Linked DNA regions of Homo sapiens: regions 1, 2 and 4 are each linked to region 3. Evidence: fine-mapped expression QTL. A gene starts in region 3. Each other region holds a variant in brackets. All regions are shown on one strand. Distances are between the middles of the regions. Region 1 holds the start of METRNL (meteorin like, glial cell differentiation regulator). Region 2 overlaps WDR45B (WD repeat domain 45B). Region 3 holds the start of WDR45B (WD repeat domain 45B). Region 4 overlaps WDR45B (WD repeat domain 45B).

What was found. PIP is the estimated chance that this variant, and not a neighbour inherited with it, causes the effect.
Region 1: its variant is fine-mapped to the expression of WDR45B in anterior cingulate cortex (GTEx, PIP 0.96).
Region 2: its variant is fine-mapped to the expression of WDR45B in blood mononuclear cells (TOPMed, PIP above 0.99).
Region 4: its variant is fine-mapped to the expression of WDR45B in whole blood (TOPMed, PIP above 0.99). The same link has a PIP of 0.9 or more in neutrophils.

Annotation. Positions count from the first base shown.
Region 1 is chr17:83,076,155-83,081,275 of GRCh38, reverse strand. It overlaps METRNL (meteorin like, glial cell differentiation regulator), which reads right to left and starts at 1,667. Exons shown (of 4, transcript NM_001004431.3): 1 at 1,291-1,667. The coding sequence starts at 1,460. The variant G/T (reference allele first, on the strand shown) is at 2,598.
Region 2 is chr17:82,610,507-82,615,732 of GRCh38, reverse strand. It overlaps WDR45B (WD repeat domain 45B), which reads left to right. Exons shown (of 10, transcript NM_019613.4): 10 at 1-1,171. Among named protein-coding and RNA genes, the nearest start is that of FOXK2-AS1, 25 kb to the right of the region's middle. The variant G/C (reference allele first, on the strand shown) is at 2,174.
Region 3 is chr17:82,645,749-82,650,952 of GRCh38, reverse strand. WDR45B (WD repeat domain 45B) reads left to right here and starts at 2,509. Exons shown (of 10, transcript NM_019613.4): 1 at 2,509-2,679. The coding sequence starts at 2,613. RefSeq lists enhancers at 1,917-1,986, 2,365-2,864 and silencers at 2,277-2,346, 2,947-2,996, 3,007-3,056.
Region 4 is chr17:82,625,382-82,630,381 of GRCh38, reverse strand. It overlaps WDR45B (WD repeat domain 45B), which reads left to right. Exons shown (of 10, transcript NM_019613.4): 4 at 3,091-3,178; 5 at 4,899-4,993. Among named protein-coding and RNA genes, the nearest start is that of WDR45B, 21 kb to the left of the region's middle. The variant G/A (reference allele first, on the strand shown) is at 2,385.

The DNA.
Region 1 (5,121 bases), 430 kb before region 3:
GGGCTGAATCACTCCGCGGGGGCAGGGGCGGCCCCAGAAGAGCCGTCGGCCTCGGAGGCTCCCGGCGCCGGCGTTCCCGGCCGACCCCCCCCAGACCTCCATCCGCCCGCGGCCCCGCTCGGCCGAGAAGGGAGGCGGCCGCTCCCGGGACAGCCGGGCACCGCCCACGGCCCTCGGGGCGACTCTGCCCCCCAGCGCCACGCCCCTTCCCCCGGGGAGGCTCCGCCGGGGGCGCTGGGGGGCGACTGTGGCTTCGCGGGGACCCGGAACGGAGGCTGCGGCTGCGGGGAGACCTGCGCCCGCCCCGCGGACACCACCCGCCCCGCACCGGCTCTGCCCCGACCTTCTCGGAAAACAGCTTCGCTCGACATCACCGCGTGACTCGGCCCGCGGCGGGGGCGGGGGCGGGGGCGGGGGCCGCGCCGAGGGGAAGCGGGACCCAGGCCCGGGCCAGCCCGGCCACGGCTCTCCGGGAGGCGCGCGTCACTCGGGTCCCCGCGCATCTGCGAACCCCGGAACTGGCGACTGCGAGGCTCGCGCAGGGCGGGTTCGGCCGCGGTGCCCTCGGCGCCCTGGGCTTCGCGTGGGAGCGGCGGCGGCTCCCGAGGGGCAGTCGCGGTCGGCGCCGCTCTCGGCGGCCACGCTTGAGTCAAAAAAAAAAAAAAAAAAAAAAAGTCCTCGGCCGCCACCGCGGGTGGGGGGGGGGGGGGTCGCCCAGCGCAGCGCGCGCCGCGGCCAAGGGCGGCCTGACCTTCACGGGGCAGGGGCGGGGGGCCCGGCCGGAGCCACACTCGGCCCGGCTCACAGGTGCCCGCCCGCGGCTCCCCGAGACGGAAGTGGCCCCCGCTGCGGTCCGCGCCCGATCCCCGAAACCGCCGCTCCCTCCCGCGGCCGTCCCTTCCCGCTCTGGCCCGGGGCGGCCTCGGGGCGCGCAACTCCCGGAGCCTGCCAGGAAGGGCCCGAGGACCGACCCCCGCCTGCCCCCGGGATGGGGTCGCGGGACCGGCGGCCCCCGAGGCTCGGACACGCGCGGAGCCGGGACCCACCCGGCCGCGCTGCAGGCGCGCCTCCCCCGGGCGTCCTCCGGGCCGGGAACCGGGACGCCGCGGGCTCTTTTGTTCTAGAACCGGGGGCGGGGGACAGCGGGCACCGGACTGGGCCTGGAGAGCGGCCCCCGGAGCCCCTGCCCCGCGCCCGCCCCCGGCCGCGCCCCCGCACGCTCGGCCGGCCCGGGACGGGAGGGGACGCGAGGGGAGGGGGCCGGGCCGGGGTCGCGCCGCGCACACTCACCTCCCCTTCCAGCTGCACCGGTCGCTGGAGTACTGCGCGCCCGCGCCGCCCAGCAGCCCGGCCAGGAGCAGGAGCAGCAGCGGGAGCGGCGGCGGGGGCGGGCCCGGGGCGGGGGGTCGCGGCCACGGCTGCCCCGCGCGCCCCCAGGCCGCCCGCGCCGCGCCCCGCATGCTCTGGCGCCGGCTCCGCCGCCCGGCCCCGCGTCCGCGACCCCCGGAGCAGACCCCGGAGCCGGCGAGCCGGGCGGGGGCGGGGCGGGCTTCGAGTCCGGGTGGTCACGTCGCGCGCCCCCCGCGTCCTCCGCGCGGCCGCCCGCCCATCCCGGCCCGCTGGAGCCGCGCGCAGAGCTCCGCGCCCGCCGCCGCCGCCGAGCCTCTGAAGTTGGCGAGTCCGAGTCCGCCCGGCCGGGCTCAGCTGGGGGGTGGGGCCCACCCGCCGCCCCGCCCCGCCCCCGACCCCGCCCCCGACCCCGCCCCGCGCCGGAAACTCCTCCCGGGGCGCCCGGCCGGACGCGCAGACACCGAGTCAGCAGCGAATCGGGGGCGCGGGCGCCGGGGCGGGGGGCGCTGCAGGAGGAGGGGGCCGCGCCGGGCGGCGAGCGGGGTCCGGAGGGAAGAGCCCGGCCTGGAAAGCGGAGTCCGGGGCCGGAGGGGTTGCAAGGCGAGGGCGGGGCGGAAACCCGAGACCCCCAAGTAGTGGCCGACGCGAGCCGCGGTCGCCCCCCGCAGACCCCCGCGAGGCGGTGCCGGGGCCGCATCCTGCGCCCCATCCTGCGCCCCATCCTGCGGGCAGCCCCGGCGCGGAGCGGTAAAGGAGGCTCCCGGCCCCGCCGGTTCTGGGTCCCCCGCGCCTCGCCAGCGGGCGGTGATCAGGGGCGATCCGGGCGCCCCGCGTTCCGCAGAGTTGGTGCCTCGGGAGTTCCCGGCTCCCTCCTGACCGGGGGGGAGGCCCGGCGGTGAGCCCGGCTTCCCTCCCTCCTCCCGGAGGACGTGCAGCCGCCGCGCCGGGGCCTCTGCCGAGCGCTGCCCACTCCTCGCTCCGGATACGCGGGGCCGGGTGGTTCTTGGGGTGGGGACGTCCTGCGCATGGTGGGATGTTGGCAGCACCCTGGCCCCCGCACTCTGGGTATCAGTAGCAACCCCCGCCCCAGCTTTGACAACCTAAACTCTCTGCAGATTTGGCCAAATCCCGCCCCCACCCCGTGCCCGCGGGGCAGAATCACCTGCGGAGCGTCCTGCTCGAGTGTGTTCCTCGGAGTCGGCGCCTTCCCCAGGTGGTCACCGCGGCCACCACGTGCCTGACCCAGT[G/T]GGGGGGACAGCGGAGACCCCCGCCCGGACTGGGGAGGCCCTAGAGACTCAGGCCAGAGAAGGGGAGCCAGAGGGTGCCGAGGGCCCCCCAGGCAGGAGAGGGCGGAGCTGGCCCGCCCGGCGGTCCCCGCTGCGATGGCAAAGCTGGCTTCTGTGTGCTGCGGGTCAGTGGCCCTGCCCGAGACGCCTGGTGTCAGTTCCAGAGCCGAGCGCAGCATCCAGCGGTGGGGAAGCTTGGCCTTGTCCCCTTTTCCAGCCAAGATACCTTCCAGGAGGACTTGCGAACGACCTGTGCAAGTCTGAATAACTGGGTTGTGACTACCAGAGGAGGCGGGGAGAGGGCTTTGAAAATTGTGAGTCTGCAGGGACGGAAGTCACCGGCAAAGGCAGGTGGAGCCCAGCCCCCAGCCCAGGAAAGCTGGGACAAGGGTGAGGGTCTGAAGAACTGGAAGGCGATGACAGTGACCACTGAAGGTAGTTTCATTGTAAGGATCTGTTCAGAGCACCCACCCCATCGAAAGCCTGGAGCCAGGACCTTGCCCAGCACATCAAGTGACATCACCCTGAGGCTCAAGGTCTGGTGGAGGTGCATTTCGGAGCTTGGAGACTGCCCCACCCACCCCCGTCTGCTCTAGGAGTGCACCTCCCCCCACCCCCATCACTGCAGGTACCAGGGTGCCCAGTGGAAAGGGACCTGCTGTGGAAAGGGACCTGCTGTGGAAAGGGACCTGCGGCTTCACACCTGTGCGCAGCAACTGCTTTCCATGCCCACCAAGCATAAGATAGCAGCCCCCCCAGGCCCGGTCCACCCTTGAAGGGCCACATGGCCTATCAGGGTCCAGATCATCACACCACGGAAGAGGCAGGGCAGTGCTGGGATCTCTTGAGTTATAGATGCGGACATGGGGAACTCAGGACCTGCCGTGACCTGCTCAGGGTCTCAGAGCCCCTGGTGGCTGCTAGACCGAAGGGGAGAGGCCGCCTCTGGTCAGCAGGCAGCTGGTTCCAGCCTAGGCTGGGGCAGAGATCTGCCACCTGGCAGGATGCCCAGCCTCCTGTGCCCAGCGGGCTGTCCTAAGACTGGGATCGTACGATGGTGAGTATGGGACCCACGTGTACTTTTCAAAACCCGTAGAAAATACAGCACAAGAGTGAATCCTGATGGAGGCTTGAGACATTTGTAATAATAACGGATCAATATTGGTTCTTTGACTGTCACACGCCTACACCCTAATGAGAGAAGGTAATCATAAGAGAAACTGGGTCAGGGAGAGGGTGTGTGGGGGACCTCTACCATCTGCTTGGTGTTTCTGTAAACCTAAAACATTAAGTCTGCTAATTAAAACAAAACAAAACTAGAGTAAGAATGCTTGCTGGCCAGTATTCTCGGAAGAAGCTAATCTGTCTTGGGAAAGGAGCCTGGCCCTTTCCACCCTGGGGCTGTGGTTCCCCAAGCTGTTCCCTTGAGGAGGTTCATGCCCCAGAGACATTGGGTGCTCCTGGGCACCTCTGCTGACCCCTGTCCTGGCCCAGCGAGGCCACCTACAGGTGAGACGTCCCCTGTAGACGGGGTTCCTGGTGTCAGGAGGTATCAGGCTCCTAGAGGATGCAGGCTGAGGTGGTCAAGGCTGTCTGGGGGTGTTCCCAGCCACTGGTACACTGCCCCTTGTACCACCAGACCCCGAGAGGCCGATTATGAACCAAAAGGATCCCAGCTGGTCATGGTGTGTGGCCCTCCCCCTGGTCCTCTGGGAGGGTCTGCAAGGAAAGGGCCTTGGGTGTGTTTGTCCCTGGATGTCTGGGAAGGGACTGCTTCCCAGTGAGCATGTCACGGGGTTAGACCCAGGAAGGGGCCACAGCATCATCCCACCCACCCACTCGTGGGAAGGAGCTGGTCTTCGCAGCTTTGCGTGAAGCTCTGATACTTCCTACCTGAGTCGGAACGTTGAGGCTGAGCCGTGGAATCGGAGAGCTCCAGAACCCACCAGGATCACGCCTGCCCATTCCCTCTACCGGCGGGCCCTGCAGTGATGCTTCTGCATCCTGGGAGATGGCAGCTAAGGGACCTGGGCCAGGGGGGCCTGTGGCCCAACCGTAGGTCTACATCAACCCTCTCTCTTTCCTCATCTATCCATTCCCTCGAGAAACAGCTCTCAGAAGCCTCCTGGGCAGACGTCCGTGAAAAAAATTCTGGGTGCACCCTGGACAGTCCTTCTGTGCCTCACCAGGGTCTGAGGCCTCAGAAAGCAGGACGTGGCCTCCCATGTCCGAGGACCACGACCCACTGTTAGGATCGAGTGACCTCGGCAGGGTCACCTCTGTGTATTTGACCCGGGAGTTTTTATCGCGTGCATTGCAGGGACCCAGCACCTGGGAATTTGCTGGGGTGGAGGGCTGTGGGACTGGACCCCTTTCTCGGCCTTTCCTATGCCGGGTGCCTACAGGCCCTGTGGGGTGGTGGACGGACCTGGCTCGGACGTCAGCCCCCAGCTCTGGGTCACAGACATGGTGGGGTTGGAGTCTG
Region 2 (5,226 bases), 35 kb after region 3:
ATCAAGGCACCGTAGGTAACTCAGTGGCTGTGACCAGCTCGACTGGCGGCCACTGGCTGTTCCCATGAGTTCAGCTGTGACGTTAGCTTCAGTGGCTCCGCCGCATCCTCACACTGACGGGGGCTCCATACGGACCTGGGGACTGGGCTGAGAGGGTGGACGAGTTCAGGTTTGTTTTTGCAGCAGATTCCGTCGTTCTTACTGAGTCTGCAGCGGGGGAGTGAACAAGTGTGCAGATGTAAGTTCTTACATGATAAGCAGATTGAATACAACACCAGCAGCTTGCCTTAGAAAAGGAGAAAGGAATTCCTTTTCCCGCCCGAACATGAAGAAAAATGACCTGACCCTGTAGAGAGAACACAGTGTGAATGTTTCCCCTCGTGTGAGCCCAGCCTGTGGTCTTCTCCGTACCCGCAACGTGGTCATCTGTGCCCGTGACGTCACCTGTGCCCGTGCGTGGCGTCCCCGTCTCCGTTGGGGCCATTAGAATGAGGCAGACACCAGGCCACTCTAGAAGCCGAGCCGTCACACCTCAGGCGTGTGCGGGGCGGGGACGGGGGGTCTCCTGGTTACATTTTGGATTAAACCTGTTTCCCGGTTATGTGTAGGGAACAGCAGAGTGATGCACGAACTTTGAACATTCGTTATGGGGAAAACATCCTTTAACTTCGGGGTCGTCTGCCAGAGCAGGGTCTGGGAGGGTCCATGCAGTTCCCGCTGGTGTGGAGGGAAATGCCCTGGTCTGGCCTCCGAGCCCCCAGGTCCACCGTCTCCCCTCCCCTCATTTGTAAGAATAGCTACACACTAACATTTTGGGAAGGAGAGGCACATAACTTTTTTTAACATTTGGTAACTAGGTTATGGGCTCTACATTGTCAGCTACTTGGGATATATATTTAATTTTCTTAAATTCCCGTTAAACTCTATTTTATGGTTTTGATTTCAGATTGCAAACATGTAAAACCTGCATAGCAGCGAGTTCTCGGTTTTGCCGGTTTCTTTAGTTCTTTACTGTCACTGTCATGTAATCAGCTAATTCTCTGTGGATGTTGCTGTAAAGTATGCATGTTCCTTTCATGTGTATTTAATCATGATGTTTAATTTTGCACACTTATTTGTAATGTTTCTTTTAAATAAAAGTGACTAATTTTGTTGTAGTCTGGACCTGTAATGGGAAGTAGAATTGTGTGTTATGAAGCCAAACACTCTTCCCCTTGCTGTGAGAATCTGGTTGGAGTGTAGGCTTCAGAACAGCCTGTGGGCCTGAAGAGGCGCCGGCCTGTGACAGGACAAGGTGGAAGCCAGGGTCACTGGGTGCGGAGCCTGGAGCTTCACTCCCTGTGTCGGGACAGGACAGCCTGCCCTCCTCATTCCCTGTGTCGGGACAGGACAGCCTGCCCTCCTCACTCCCTGTGTCGGGACGGGGCGGCCTGCCCTCCTCACTCCCTGTGGCGGGACGGGGCGGCCTGCCCTCCTCACTCCCTGTGGCGGGACGGGGCGGCCTGCCCTCCTCACTCCCTGTGGCGGGACGGGGCGGCCTGCCCTCCTCTCTCCCTGTGTCGGGGATGGGACGGCCTGCCCTCCTCTCTCCCTGTGTCGGGACGGGGCGGCCTGCCCTCCTCTCTCCCTGTGCCCCAAGGGCACCTCTGGAGGAGGGAGGGAGGAAATGCATCTGTAGGAGGCCTGTGTGGCTCTGGGAGGTCTGAGGCTCCTGCTGGCCTGTGGAGGTGGAGGGTGGCTGGCAGCAGCAATGTCCCTGCATGTTGAAGTGGCAGCTTCAAGTGAGCCGGCGTCACCCTGGCTTGTCTAACACTTGAGATCTGACTCTGGGTGGGGGAGTAGGAGCGTAATTACCAGTTGATAAACATGAATCTGGGGGAAATGCATGCAAGAAGGGTGGGTTTTCTCGCAGTGCACGTGAACAGCCTCAGAACTGATGCGGACGGCGGGGCTGTGTCACAGGCCCGTTCACCAGGAACGTGGCGAGGGCCTGCACGGACGTGCCTCATGTGAGGCCCTGGCGGCACCGGCCCTCCCCAGGCATGTGCTTTTTAAAAATCACTGTAGAGCGGCAAGGACACGGTGTCCCTAGGCCGGCGGACTCGGGAGCGCAGCTGCTTTTCAAGTGGAACTGATGGGAAGCGCAGTGTATGGGAAACAAGGCCGGGCTGCT[G/C]CCTCCCCCACGAACCTCCTGTGCCCCGGACGTGGGTGCGAAGGGACTCCAGAGTGACTGCCTCAGACGGTGCCTACTCAGCAGCTTTCCTGTCTGATCGTACAGGTGCGTGGGCATGGATGACTCCGGCTGCGTTTCTGGTCTGTCCTCCCTCCCCTGTGGCCCTGGGATGTCTTGCGGGGACAGGCGGCTTGTGCCCTGTGGAACGCAGCCCTGACCCATACCCACCCTGTGTTTGGCGTTGATGCCTGTGTGAACCCCTGGCCACCTCCCGCTCCCACCACTGTAGTCGGGGGCGCTGGCCATCTGCAGCCTTCTGTGATCAAAGAGTTTTATATTTGTGTTTTCTTTCTGCAACCAAACCAAGCCCCTGAATGCCAGAGCTCTTTCACGTGACTTAGTCCTCATCTCTCTTCTGTTGTGTCAGAGGCATTTGGTTGATGACATTGTTGAAACTTGTACCAAAATTTTTCTCTTCCAGATGGATCAGAGAATACAATGAAAAAAAAGTTCCTTATAAAATAATAGAAAAATATAAATTTGTAAGCAAAATTGCCCCGTGTTTCTACCTCCAGAGAAGATCACTCTCAGACAACCCCACACCTGAACGTAACATCTATTTTTATTTAAAAAATTGTTTTGGTAGAGACGGGGTTTCTCCTCCACCTCCTGGGCTCAAGCGATCTTCCCACCTTGGCCTCCCAAAGTGCTCGGATTACAGCCACCACGCCTGGCCGCCTTTTTTATTTCAGATACATTTGTCAGTTCTAAAGTTGGTTTCTAATTCGTGGCTGATGACTTGTGTCTGCCCATTTGTACGCGCTCTGTGCGCTTTCAAGTCCTTGTCTGCCGATTCCAGCATCTGGGTCTTCTTGGAGGATGCCTCCTGATTTTCCTTTATTGAGTGGGGACTTGGGGGTGACCCTGCCTGCCGCTAGGAATGGCTGTTGAATTTTGTTAAGTGACTTTTCTGCATCTGTTGTGATGATCACACCTATCTTTTACGCCGTGAACGTGGAGCATCACGTTGATTTTTGAATGTTGAGCCAACCTTGCTGTCCTGTGGGAAAGCCCACTTGGTCACAGTGTGTTATCCTTAAATACTGCTGAATTCGCCAGGCGCGGTGGCTCACGCCTGTAATCCCAGCACTTTGGGAGCCTGAGGTGGGTGGATCACCTGAGGTCAGGAGCTCGAGACCAGCCTGGCCAACATGGTGAAACCCTGTCTCTACTAAAAATACAAAAATTAACCAGGCGTGGTGGCGCGTGCCTGTAGTCCCAGCTACTTGGGAGCGTGAGGCAGGAGAATCAGTTGAACCGGGCAGATGGAGGCTGCAGTGAGCCGAGATCGCAGCACTGCACGCCTGCCTGGGTGACAGAGACTCTATCTCAGGAAAAAAAAAAAAGAATTCTACTAATACTTGGGGATTTTTTTTTTTTTTGGATGTATATGTATAGAGGATTCTTATTTCTAATTTAGCTTGTAATATTCTTGCCGCATTCTGGAATTTCGTATCAGGTTAGTGATTTTGTGGTTTTGGCATTAATTTTAAAATGATTTGTCTTACGCAACATCCACCAAAATGTAGACATACAATGGGTTTTAACAAAAGCAAATGTAGACTTGAGACTGAGGTGGCATCTAGTGAAATGTCATTTCTTTTGTAGCTCTGTTCAAGAGAGACGCCACCGTCTGTAGAGGCCGTGAATCCCCCGACATTTGCTCTGAGCCTCCCACAGACACCTGCGGCCCCATCTTGAGTTGTCCATGCTGGCTGCCAGCCAGAAGCCTGTCATCTGTGTAAGATGTTTCAGATGGTGAGTCTGACGACGCTTCTGGGGCATGCGAGCTGAGGGCTAATTATCTCCTAATCTCTCTCGGGTATGTGGAAAAAACAGGCAAGGATCTGGCCAGATACTGTGGAAAAGGGTGTCCTCCTGACCTTGATAGCAGAGTGTAACTCCAGAAAATCAGCATTTTTCTACCTCAGTTTCAGTATTTGCACAAGGGACTTGAACTTATGTCTCACATTATTTTTACCATTATCAGCATATACGACAGCTGCCTATCCTTTTTTTTTTTGAGACAGGGTCTCACTCCAGGCTGGAGTGTGGTGATGCAATCTCAGCTCACTGCAACCTCTGTCTCCTGGATTCACGTGATCCTCCCACCTCAGCCTCCTGAGTAGCCGGGACTACAGGCGTGCACCACCACGCCCGGCTAATTTTTGTTATTGTTTTGTAGAGACGGTGTCTGTGTTCTCCAGGCTGGTCTTGAACACCTGGCCTGAAGCAGTCCTCCCACCTCAGCCTCCCAAAGTATTGGGATTACAGGTGTGAGCCACCGTGCCCAGCCGTGCTTCTTTTTTTCTTTTTTTTTTTGGCTCTGTCACCCAGGCTGGAGTGCCGGGGTGCAATCAAGGCTCACTGCAGCCTCGCCCTCCTGGGCTCAAGTGATCCTTCTGCTCCAGTTTCCCAAATAGCTAGGACCATAGGCATGCACCACCATGCCTGGCTAATTTCTTTATGTTTTGTTTGTTTGTTTTTGAAACGGAGTTTCGCTTTGTCTCCCAGGCTGGAGTGCAGTGGCTCAACCTCGGCTCACTGCAACTTCCACCTCCCGGGTTCAAGAAATTCTCCTGCCTCCACCTCTCAAGTAGCTGGGATTACAGGTGTGCACCACCACGCCCGGCTAATTTTTTGTATTTTTAGAAGAGATGGGGTTTCACCATGTTGGCCAGGCTGGTCCCAAACTCCTGACCTCAGGTGATCCGCCTGCCTCTGCCTCCCAAAGTGCTGGGATTACAGGTGTGGGCTACTGCACTCAGCCTACCTAGCTAATTCTTAATTTTATGATTTTGTTTTAGAGGTGGGGGTCACCCTGTGTTGTTGCCCAGTTTCGTCTCAAACTCCTGGGCGGAGCTGGGCATGGTGGCTCACGCCTGTAATGCCAGCACTTTGGGAAGCCGAGGTGGGCGGATGACCCGAGGTCAGGAGTTCGGGACTAGCCTGACCGACATGGAGAAACCCCGTCTCTACTAAAAAAATACAAA
Region 3 (5,204 bases):
CAGCCTGTGTTCCTTCCCAGGCTGGGAGGCTCTGGGGAAGAACCGTTCATGCCTCTCCCGGCTCCTGGTGACCCCACGATTCCTGCACTTGCTGACTTAGGGCTGAGCACTCCAGTCCCACTGGCTGCTGTCCCCTGTATCTCCTCCATTCCTGTCTCCTCCAAGGGTGCCGGTCACCAGCTTTAAGGCCCACCCCAAATCCAGGATGATCTTATCTCGAGATCCTTAATTACTTCTGCAATGATTCTTTACCTAAAGAAGCCCCTATTCTCAGGTTCTGGGTGGACCTATCTTTTTTTTTTTTTTTTTTTGCGACAGAGTCTTGCTGTGTTGCCCAGGCTGGAGTGTAGTGGCACAATCTCAGTTCAGTGCAGCCTCAGCCTCAATCTCCTGGGCTCAAGCCATCCTCCCTCCTCAGCCCCCCAGGACACATCTTTAGAGGGTCACCATTCAACGCACTGTGGTGGGCAAGGCTGCTTTGAGTTTCCTGGTTAGGATACAACCAGCGCTGTGTGTGGATGTCCACACATGCCCCCGCCCCCGGCTGTACAGCCACCGGGAGACTGAGTAAAATGTGAACTGAAGGAGGCCCCAAGGGTGGCAAGCAGAGAAATGAAGGGAAATGTCCCTTACCCACGCCTCTCTCCTTCCCCCACGTGACACTTCTCACAGCAGGTACCGGTACGTGTGCACAGAGGAGAACCCAGTGCCCTTCAGGGAAGAGGGTGCTGAGCCCCTGGACCGCACTTAGGTCTCGCCCCAGCTCTGTGATTTGGACCTGGGCCCCCGAGCCCTAGTCACAGCCGGGGCGGCCCAACTCGCTCCGCCATCGGAAGGCTTCTGGTCGCTCTCAGGGAGGAGCCCCTCTCGTATGGGAATCGAGGTGTTCAATGCCCACGATGCGGAGACCGCCTGGCCCGAGTGGGCCAGTGATCTCAGCTTACAGTCCAGCTCCTTCCTCCCCATGGCTAAGAGGTCAGCACCAGCTCAGGCAAGTGGCGAGGGTGGGATGAGGATGACAGACGGGGTGGAGGCAGGTGGCTGCGAGGGGACAGTGTCAGGACCTCCTAGGAGATCAGGTGTGCTGCAGGGAACAGGGAGAGCCTAGGAGGGGACAGGAAAGTGAGGAGGGGGAGTGGAGAGGACTCCCTGGGCAAGAGACACGAGGGCCAGCACTCAGGCCTCCACAGCCATCCACTGCATGAGCCAAGCCCAGGGACAAAGCTCTGTGACCAGGATGCCCCCAGCAGCCTGACCCTAAGAGTTGAGAACTGTGCCCTGTGAGCAATGTGACCTGAGGGTCCCGGAGTCCTGCGGGGGCTGTGCTGTGTGAGGGCCACCTGTCCTTTAGGTGGGGTACTAAGGGGTTGTGTCCTCTATGGGCTGTGTCGTGGGGGGGCTGTGTGTCCTCTGGGGGGCTATGTGTCCTGGGAAGGTCCCTGTGTCCTGGGAAGGTCTCTGTGACCTGGCGGTCTGTGTGTCCTGGGGGGGCTGTGTGTCTTAGGGGGACCTCTGTGTCTTCTGGGGGAATATGTGCCCTGGAAAGGACTCTGTGTACTGGGGGAGGCTGTGTGTCTTAGGGGGGCTGTGTCCTGGGGGGGTTTCTGTGTCCCGGGGGGGCTGTGTGTCCTGGGAGTGCTGTGTCCTGGGGGACCTCTGTGTCCTGGGGGCACTGTGTGTCCTGGGGGGACCTCTGTGTCCTGGAGACTGCGTGTCTTGGGGGTCCTCTGTGTCCTGGGGGGTCTCTGTCCTGGGGACTGTGTGTCTTGGGCACCCTCTGCGTCCTGCAGGAGCTGCGTGTCCTGGGGGGGCTGAGTGACTTGGGGGCCCTCTGTGTCCTGGGGGTCTCTGTCTCCTGAAGGGGGACCCTAGTATTGTGGCGCTTCTGGGCTTGCCTCTCATGAGGGATGATGCACCGGGCCTCAGTTTTGGGTCAGCCTCCTTTACCGGCTCTCCCCCCTTCCTCCGACCGTCAGGTATCCGTGCCAAGCCCTCAACGGGCCATCCTCCTTCCCGCGGCGACCCCGCGCATGACAAGGCCAGACCCTCCCGCGAACGTGCTCTGCGCTCCCGCCTGGCCCCTCCCCGCCCCGCCCCTCCCCCTCCTCCCCGCCCCGCCTCGCTCCGCCCCTCCCCGCCTCCGCCCCGCCCCGCCCGCCCTGCCTCTCCCCGCCTTTCCTCGCCTCGCCCCGCCCCGCCCCGCCCCCTCCTCCCCGCCCCGCCTCGCTCCGCCTCTCCCCGCCTCATCCCGCCCCGCCCGCCCTGCCTCTCCCCGCCTCATCCCGCCCCGCCCGCCCTGCCTCTCCCCGCCTTTCCTCGCCTCGCCTCGCCTCGCCCCGCCCCGCCCCTCCCCGCCCTGCCTCGCCTCGTCTCGCCTCGCTTCGGTTAGATGCGCTCGGCGCTCCATAGGCTCCCTGGTGGGGCGCGGGCGCGCGCACGGACGTCCAGCACGCACGCACGCACGTCCAGCACACACGCACATCCAGCACGCACGCACGTACGTCCGGCACTTCCGGCCGCGGCGGCCTCAGCGCCGGCCCGAAGGGACCAGGCCGCCGTCCCCAGCGAGAGGCATGCAGCGCTGAGGAGCGGCGACCCAGCACGGCGGCGCCATGAACCTCCTGCCGTGTAACCCTCACGGCAACGGGCTGCTCTACGCCGGCTTCAACCAGGACCACGGTGAGGAGGCGCGGCCCTGTCGCCTTGCCCGGCCGGGCCTTCCCGCAGCCCGGGGTCCCCGGCTCTCAGGCCTCTCCTGGGCGCCCCTTTCCGGCCAGGCCTTCCACCCGGGACCCCGGCCCCGCCCGAGCTCCCCTCCGAAGCCCCCGGCCCCGGCCCTCGCCGCTGCTCCCAGCCCGAGCCGGGGTCCGGACCAGGCCCGAACCGGCTCCCACCTTCCTGGCCTTTCGCGCTCCCCCACCCCCCGGGTTGTGACCGCTCCCAGCCGGCCGTCCCGGGCCGAGGTCGAGGTCGGTGGGAGACGGCACAGAACCCCAGCCTCCTGCGCGGACGCCCCTCCCCGCGCGCCACGCCCACTCGGGTTCCCTGGCTCCCTGCGGGCTCCACGGTTATCGGGATTTTCCCCACAGCGTGATTGACGCCCTGCCCAGAACCCCGTTTTGCCCCCTGTTCCTTTCAGGGTCTTTAGTAGGTAGCCCGTGGCTGAGCTGACTTCGCTTGGGTTTACTGGAGCCGCGGAGCCGGCGTCTCCGACGCCTCTGGTGGCGAGTGGCGCGGGTGGGGTGCAGGTCTCACCTTTCCCGTCGGTTTCCATCGGAAAATGTCACTCTCCCCACCCCCACTCCCCGGGATTTTTCTTCGTGTTTGGTGGAGTCAAAGGACTTAAGGGAGGCCTTTGAGGGAAATCTTACTTCTTTTCCCATGTCGGAATCCAGGTGTAAGCACTGGATGATTTAAAGCGCCCAGGGAAGGTGACCTCCTTCCCCGCAGGTGCTTCGGAGCTGCGGGGGATGCGGCCGGGGCGGCGCGGTCGGATTCCCGCGGGAGGCGGGCGGGACCTGGATTCGGATGGTTGCCTCCTCACCTCCCATTTGAAGGGCGCGCTTCCCAAAGGTCCTGATGGGGAGGAAAAGGAATGTCCGTTATTCCGAGACAGGCTTCTGCGAGGCTTTACATGTTGGCTTTGGAAGTTTTGTTTTTGAAGAGAATCCAGGCAGGTGCTGTATGATCCCGTATATGTGAAGACAATTTTATTTATTTATTTATTTCATTTTGAGACGGAGTCTCATTCTGTCGCCCAGCCTGGTGCGATCTCGACTCACTGCAACCTCCTCCTCCCGGGTTCACGCCATTCTCCTGCCTCAGGCTCCTGAGTAGCTGGGATTACAGGCGCCTGCCTCCACGCCCGGCTACTTTTTGTATTTTTAGTAGAGACGGGGTTTCACCATGTTGGCCAGGCTGGTCTCAATCTGACCTCAGGTGATCCACCCGCCTCGGCCTCCCAAAGTGCTGGGATTACAGGCGTGAGCCACTGCGCCCGGCCGGATTACACATATTTGAAAGAACTCCCTCTCAGTGATTTTGATGCCTGATGCCCTGGGACCAGTCAGGCTTCCTGGGCGCTGCCAGCTTCCCCAGGGTTGTGTGCTGGGGTTTCTCCGGAAGAAAGTTTTGCTGAGATGGTAAGGGAGATGCCTAGCCTTCTCAGAGGGTGGTTTCCAACCATCTGGTGTTTGTAATGCCTTCTTTTTAGTGAAGTGTGCTATACCTGTAGAAGGGTGGATATATCATAAGTGTTCAGGTGATGAATTTTCCAAACTACACACCTGTCACTAACAATTAAGAAATTGAATATACCTGGCCACGCTTGATTCCAATAAATGCTCCCTACCTGACTTGTGACATCATAGATTAGTTTTGCCTACTTCTGTACTTTATTTTTGTACTTATTTTTGTTTCTAGCTGTTTTTTTGTTTTGGGTTTTTTTTTTTTTTTTTTTTTTTTGAGACGGAGTTTTCGCTCTTGTTGCCCAGGCTGGAGTGCAATGGCGCGTTCTAGGCTCACTGCAAACTCCGCCTCTCAGGTTCAAGCAATTCTCCTGTCTCAGCCTCCCGAGTAGCTGAGATTACAGGCATGCACCACCATGCCTGGCTAATTTTGTATTTTTAGTAGAGACTGGGTTTCTCCGTGTTGAGTCTGGTCTTGAACTCCTGACCTCAGGTGATCCGCCCACCTCGGCCTCTCAAAGTGCTGGGGTTACAGGCGTGAGCCACGGCGCCAGGCTGTTTCTAGGTTTCTTACTCAACATCATGTTTGTGATTTTTTTTTTCCGTATTGTTGAGTATAGTTGTAGATCTTTTTTTTTTTCTTTTTCCGAGACGGATCTTGCTCTTGCCCAGGCTGGAGTGCTGTGGCGTGATCTCAGCTCACTGCAACCTCTGCCTCCTGGGTTCAAGCGATTCTCCTGCCTCAGGCTCCCGAGTAGTTGGGATTACAGGTGCCCGCCACCGCTCCCGGCTAATTTTTGTATTTTGAATAGAGATGGGGTTTCACCGTGTTAGCCAGGATGGTCTTGATCTCCTGACCCTGTGATCCACCCACCTCGGCTGCCCAAAATGCTGGGATTACAGGTGTGAGCCACCGTGCCCGGCCAGATCATTCTTGATGTACAATGTTCTTTTGTGCAGACATACAACAATTCATATATCCAGTCTACCATGGTTGGGCATTTGGGTACGTTCCAG
Region 4 (5,000 bases), 20 kb after region 3:
GAGGAAAGAGGGCTCAAGGCGAAAGATCCAGGAATGGAGGGCAGAACACAGGGAAGAGGTGGGAGGCGGGAGGTAGGCTGGGTGGGGGAGGTGGGAGGCAGATCTGGGGGAGGCTTGAATGCCAGGTAACGTGTGGCCAGGAAGGAGATGCCGTCAGATCTGTGTTTTGGGAAAGTTCTGGTCTAGATGCAGTGCATGAGGTGAGTGAAGAGACACCAGAGGATGGGGCAGGTGTGGGAAGCCCCCGTTTATGGGGAGAGGCAGGAAAAGTGGAGCAAGCATCCTCGTCTGAGCCCAGTGCCAGGCGGGAGGAGGCCTGAGAAAAGCCATCTGGTTCTGGTGACATTGAAGGCCACCGGTGGTCTCAGAGGATGACTGAGTGGGAGCCCAGTGGTGGGTGGGTAGGGTGGGAGGAGGTGAGGAGGGAAGGAGAGGCTCAGTGAGGGAGGCAGTTCAGAATCAAGACCAGGATGGGGCTCTGGGGGCGCCGCATGCCAAATGGGAAGTGAGTGGGTGAACTAGGATCTGGGTGATATCACGTACTTAGGAATAGAATAGCCCAGGTCAGATCAGGCACAAAAGGATTGTGTGGAAAGGCAGAAGGTTCCAGATGACTCGTGACAAGCTTTGGGGCCCAGCTCACAGTTCTCAGCAGAGCCCCGTGAACTGCGTGAACGTGAATGTGCGGAAGAGAGACCACACTCGGGTGAGGACTGGCCCTGCCTGATACATTTATTTTTGTTTTGGAATTAGGAACAGAGAAATGAAATGGGAAGAGATTATCGGTAGGAAAAACAGTGGAAGACAGGGCTTGAGATCTTGGCCTTTGAGCGGTTCTGTAATCTCACAAGGTTTGTCTGTGCCAGCTTTAAAGCAGAGTTGAGAGTGGCTGCTAGCATAGCCCAGAGGGGCAGAGGCCTGTGGCTTGTGAGTCCTCTGGAGGAGCCCACCCAGAAGGGACAGCGGAGGTTCCACAGAGAGAGCAGGGCAGGATTTGCAGGAGAATGACTTTGCCCTGGCTAATTGGGGATGGGCAGAAATCCTGCTGGTGAATTGGTCTGTGTCTTGTCATGGAGAACTTCATTGACCATTAAGGAGGAAAGGAAGCTTATAGATGGAAGTCAGGAGGCCTAGAGGGCCGCCTCCCTTGCCCTACCTCTGGCACTGCTGGGGGACCCCAGGTGCTAACAAGGGAGCCATTTGTATGAGATAATCTCAGGTCTCATTCTCATTATAAAGTTTCTAAGAGGTGAAAAAGCCTTAGAAACTTCACAGACTTAGAAGAAAGCAGTATTCAGCAGGTTTTTGAGTAAATGTACTTTTTGTAGCGTTTAAAGGTACTTTTTTTTACTAGTAAACTTGATTTTTATTTATTTAGTTTTGAGACAGGGTCTCACTGTGTTGCCCAGGCTGGAATGCAGTTGCGCAGTCCTGGCTCACTGCAGCTTCTACCTCCCCAGGCTCAGGTGATCCTTCCGCCTCAGCCTCCCGAGTAGCTGGGAGTACCGGAGCACCCACCACACCCGGCTACCTTTTGTGTTTTTAGTAGAGACGGCGTTTCCACATGTTGCCCACGCTGGTCTCAAACTCCTGAGCTCCATTGATCCGCCTGCCTCTGCCTCCCAAAGCGCTGGGATTACAGGTGTGAGCCATCACACCCAGCTGTGTTTTTTGTGTGTTTTTTTGAGACAGGGTCTCCCTCTGTTGCCCAGCTTGGAGTGCAGTGGGGTGATCATAGCTCACTGCAGCCTCAGACTCCTGGACTCTACCTGAGTAGCTGTGACTAATTTTTAATAACTTTTTTTTTCAGAAATGGGAGTCTCACTATGTTGCCCAGGCTGGTCTTGAACTCTTGGCCTCAAGCGATCTCACACCCCAGCCTCCCAAAGTGCTGGGATTACAGGCGTGAGCCACCGCACCCATCCCTCCTGTGGTTCTTCAAAAGCACGGTGCTGGTTGGCATTCTCATCCCTAAAGCTTGTCGGTACATTAGCCCTTAGAACACAAACTGCTAATTTATGCTAATAGAATGTTGCAATGTTAGCAGGCAAACAAGACAGAAGAAATTTTGAACTTAAAAAGGAGCAGGGGCTGGGTGCAGTGGCTCACACGTGCAGTCCTAGCACTTTGGGAAGTTGAGGTGGGCAGATCACTTCAGCCCAGAAGTTCGAGACCAGCCTGGACAACATGGTAAAACCCCATCTCTACCAAAAATACAAAACTTAGCTGGGCATGGTAGTGCATGCCTGTAGTCCCAGCCATTTGGGAAGCTGACGTGGGAGAATCTCTTGAGCCTGGGAGGTCAAGGCTGTAGTGAGCCAAGATTGCGCCACCGCACTCCAGCCTGGGCGAGAGAATGAGACCCTGTCTCAAAAAGAAAAACA[G/A]AAAAAGAGGAAGAACAACCCAGGACCTTGAGTGGAGTGAGGAACTTGTTGGCCCTGATTTGTGTCCCTCTGATTTCACTTTAAAACTGAAACCTCCCTTCCTGATGCAGGTTTATTTGCAGCACTTTTAACATCAGTACCTATGGTCAGGCTTGCCTATGGGCTCAGTCGGGTGGAATCAAGGAAGGTCAGGGAGAGGAACGTAACCAGGCAAGGGCAAGGGTTGGCAGAGAGAGATGAACGCGCTCAGCGCGCCTGTGTGCGAGGCCAGTGGGTCGCCTGAGACCGGGACCGGGCTGTGCGCACTGAGAGAGGAACGGACGGGGAGGGAGCAATGGTTGGCAGAGAGAGATGAATGCGCTTAGCGTGCCTGTGTGTGAGGCCAGTGAGTGGGTCACCTGAGAACAGGACCGGGCTGTGCACACTGAGAGAGGAATGGGCGGGGAGGGAGCAAGTGGGCAGCCAGCTACCAAGAAGGGGAGACGCTTTGAGTGGGGAAGGTGCCCGAGGGCGGATCCCTGGCACAGCTCACGGTTTGAGTTACACCCCAAGGCCTCCCAGGTGCGGGTGTGTGTCTGAGGCCTGAGGGTGGGCGCAGCTGTGCCAGTGGGAAGAGAAAACACCTTAGGCGCCAAGCTGGCATCGCTGCATCCCAGCGCCATGGCCTGCTGATGACTGCATTCATCTTTTCTTTCTGATATTTCAGTAATGATCTGGGATGACCTGAAGAAGAAGACTGTTATTGAAATAGAATTTTCTACAGAAGTCAAGGCAGTCAAGCTGCGGCGAGATAGGTGGGTTTGGTGTCAGTAATTTTTTAAAGTGGTATTTCACTTTCTCAAAAGATGGCTGAAATACTTTTCTATTTTTGGCAGAAAAATGTTTAGGAAATGATGTATTAAAATGTTGGTCCTGGTTTTTATGACCATAAGGATATAAGGATTATTTATATTGCTGCAAGAAAGGCAGCGAATTGTGTTTGTTTCCAGGGCTCCGCTGGAGGTAAGTAGGTGGTGGCGTGGATGACGTGCGCCACAGTGGACCAGCCAGTGGGTCTCACCGTGGTGAGTTATGTCCCATTCCGACATGTGCAGAGCTGAGGACATGAGTTTTGAGCCTTGAATTACCCTGGGCTTTTAGCCCCTGCTTTGCCAAATGCTGCCTCTCAATAAAGGTTTTCGGTTTGAAGGTAAAGGAAAATTGAATTTTCTGTGTTGAAAGTAGCAGGTGGTTCTGTCAGCCATGGTCTCAGGGGCGTTTAGGGGGAATATGGAAGTTTGTCCTAGTACGTTGAGCAAGATAGCGCAGAGTTCGTTCATTTGGGTTTTTATTTAATATGATTTGCATATTTTACTCTAAGATTTCCATCTCTGTCGGCTGTGGGAGGACAGCAGCCGAGCAAGTTGGATGTAAACAGAGGTCATTTCACCTCCCTGCCCTTTTTTTTTTTTTTTTTTTTTTTTTGGGAGATAGAGTCTTGCTCTGTTGCCAGACTGGAGTGCAGTGGCACAATCTCAGTTCACTGTAACCTCTGCCTCCCGGGTTCAAGCAATTCCTGCCTCAGCCTCCGGAGTAGCTGGGACTACAGGCGCACACCACCAAGCCTGGCTGATTTTGTATCTTTAGTAGAGACAGGGTTTCACCATGTTGGCCAGGATGGTCTTGATCCCTTGACCTCATGATCCACCCGCCTCAGCCTCCCAAAGTGCTGGGATTACAGGTGTGAGCCACTGCGCCCGGCCAACTTTCCTGCATTTTTGTGTGGGTTTGTCATTTTAATAACGTCAATATTTAAAGGCCCTTAGTAATGCAAATGTGGCCGGGCACCGTGGCTCATGCCTGTAATCCCAGCACTTTGGGAGGCTGAGGCAGGCGGATCACAAGGTCAGGAGTTAGAGACCAGCCTGGCCAACCTAGTGAAACCCCATCTCTACTAAAAATACAAAAATTAGCTGGGCATGGTGGTGCACGCCTGTAATCCCACCTACTCAGGAGGCTGAGGCAGGAGAATCGCTTGAACTGGAGGTGGAGGTTGCAGTGAGCTGAGGTTGTGCCACTGCACTCCAGCCTGAGCGACAGAGTGAGACTCCATCTATAAAAAAAAAGTAATAATAATAATAATGCAAACGCTTGAGCCAGATCGAGGATATTCTACTTTCAGACTTTTCTTATTTTTTCCAGACACAGTAGCATAAAAATATCACTTCTGTCTGTTTTGCTCGGTTCTGAACCTAGATGGAGTGTTTGATGATGTCTCTCTGAACCTCAGAGACGTCTCTTAGGCTGACCTTCACCCAGGCGAGAAGCACTCCCTCAGCAGAGCCAGCCCACGTGCACTCGCCGAGCTCCAGGCCTGGCGCTGGCTACCTGCCTCCAGAGCTTTTTCTTCAGGAACACTCCTTTTCTGTGTGGTATTTTCAGTGTTTCTCAGTTTCAGTATGATAAGAACAGGAGCATAAAATGTTTGGGTTTGACTCTTGAGGAAAGCAACTCTGATCATGTTTTTCTTTCCAGAATTGTGGTGGTTTTGGACTCCATGATTAAGGTGTTCACATTCACACACAATCCCCATCAGTTGCACGTCTTCGAAACCTGCTATAACCCCAAAGGTGAGAG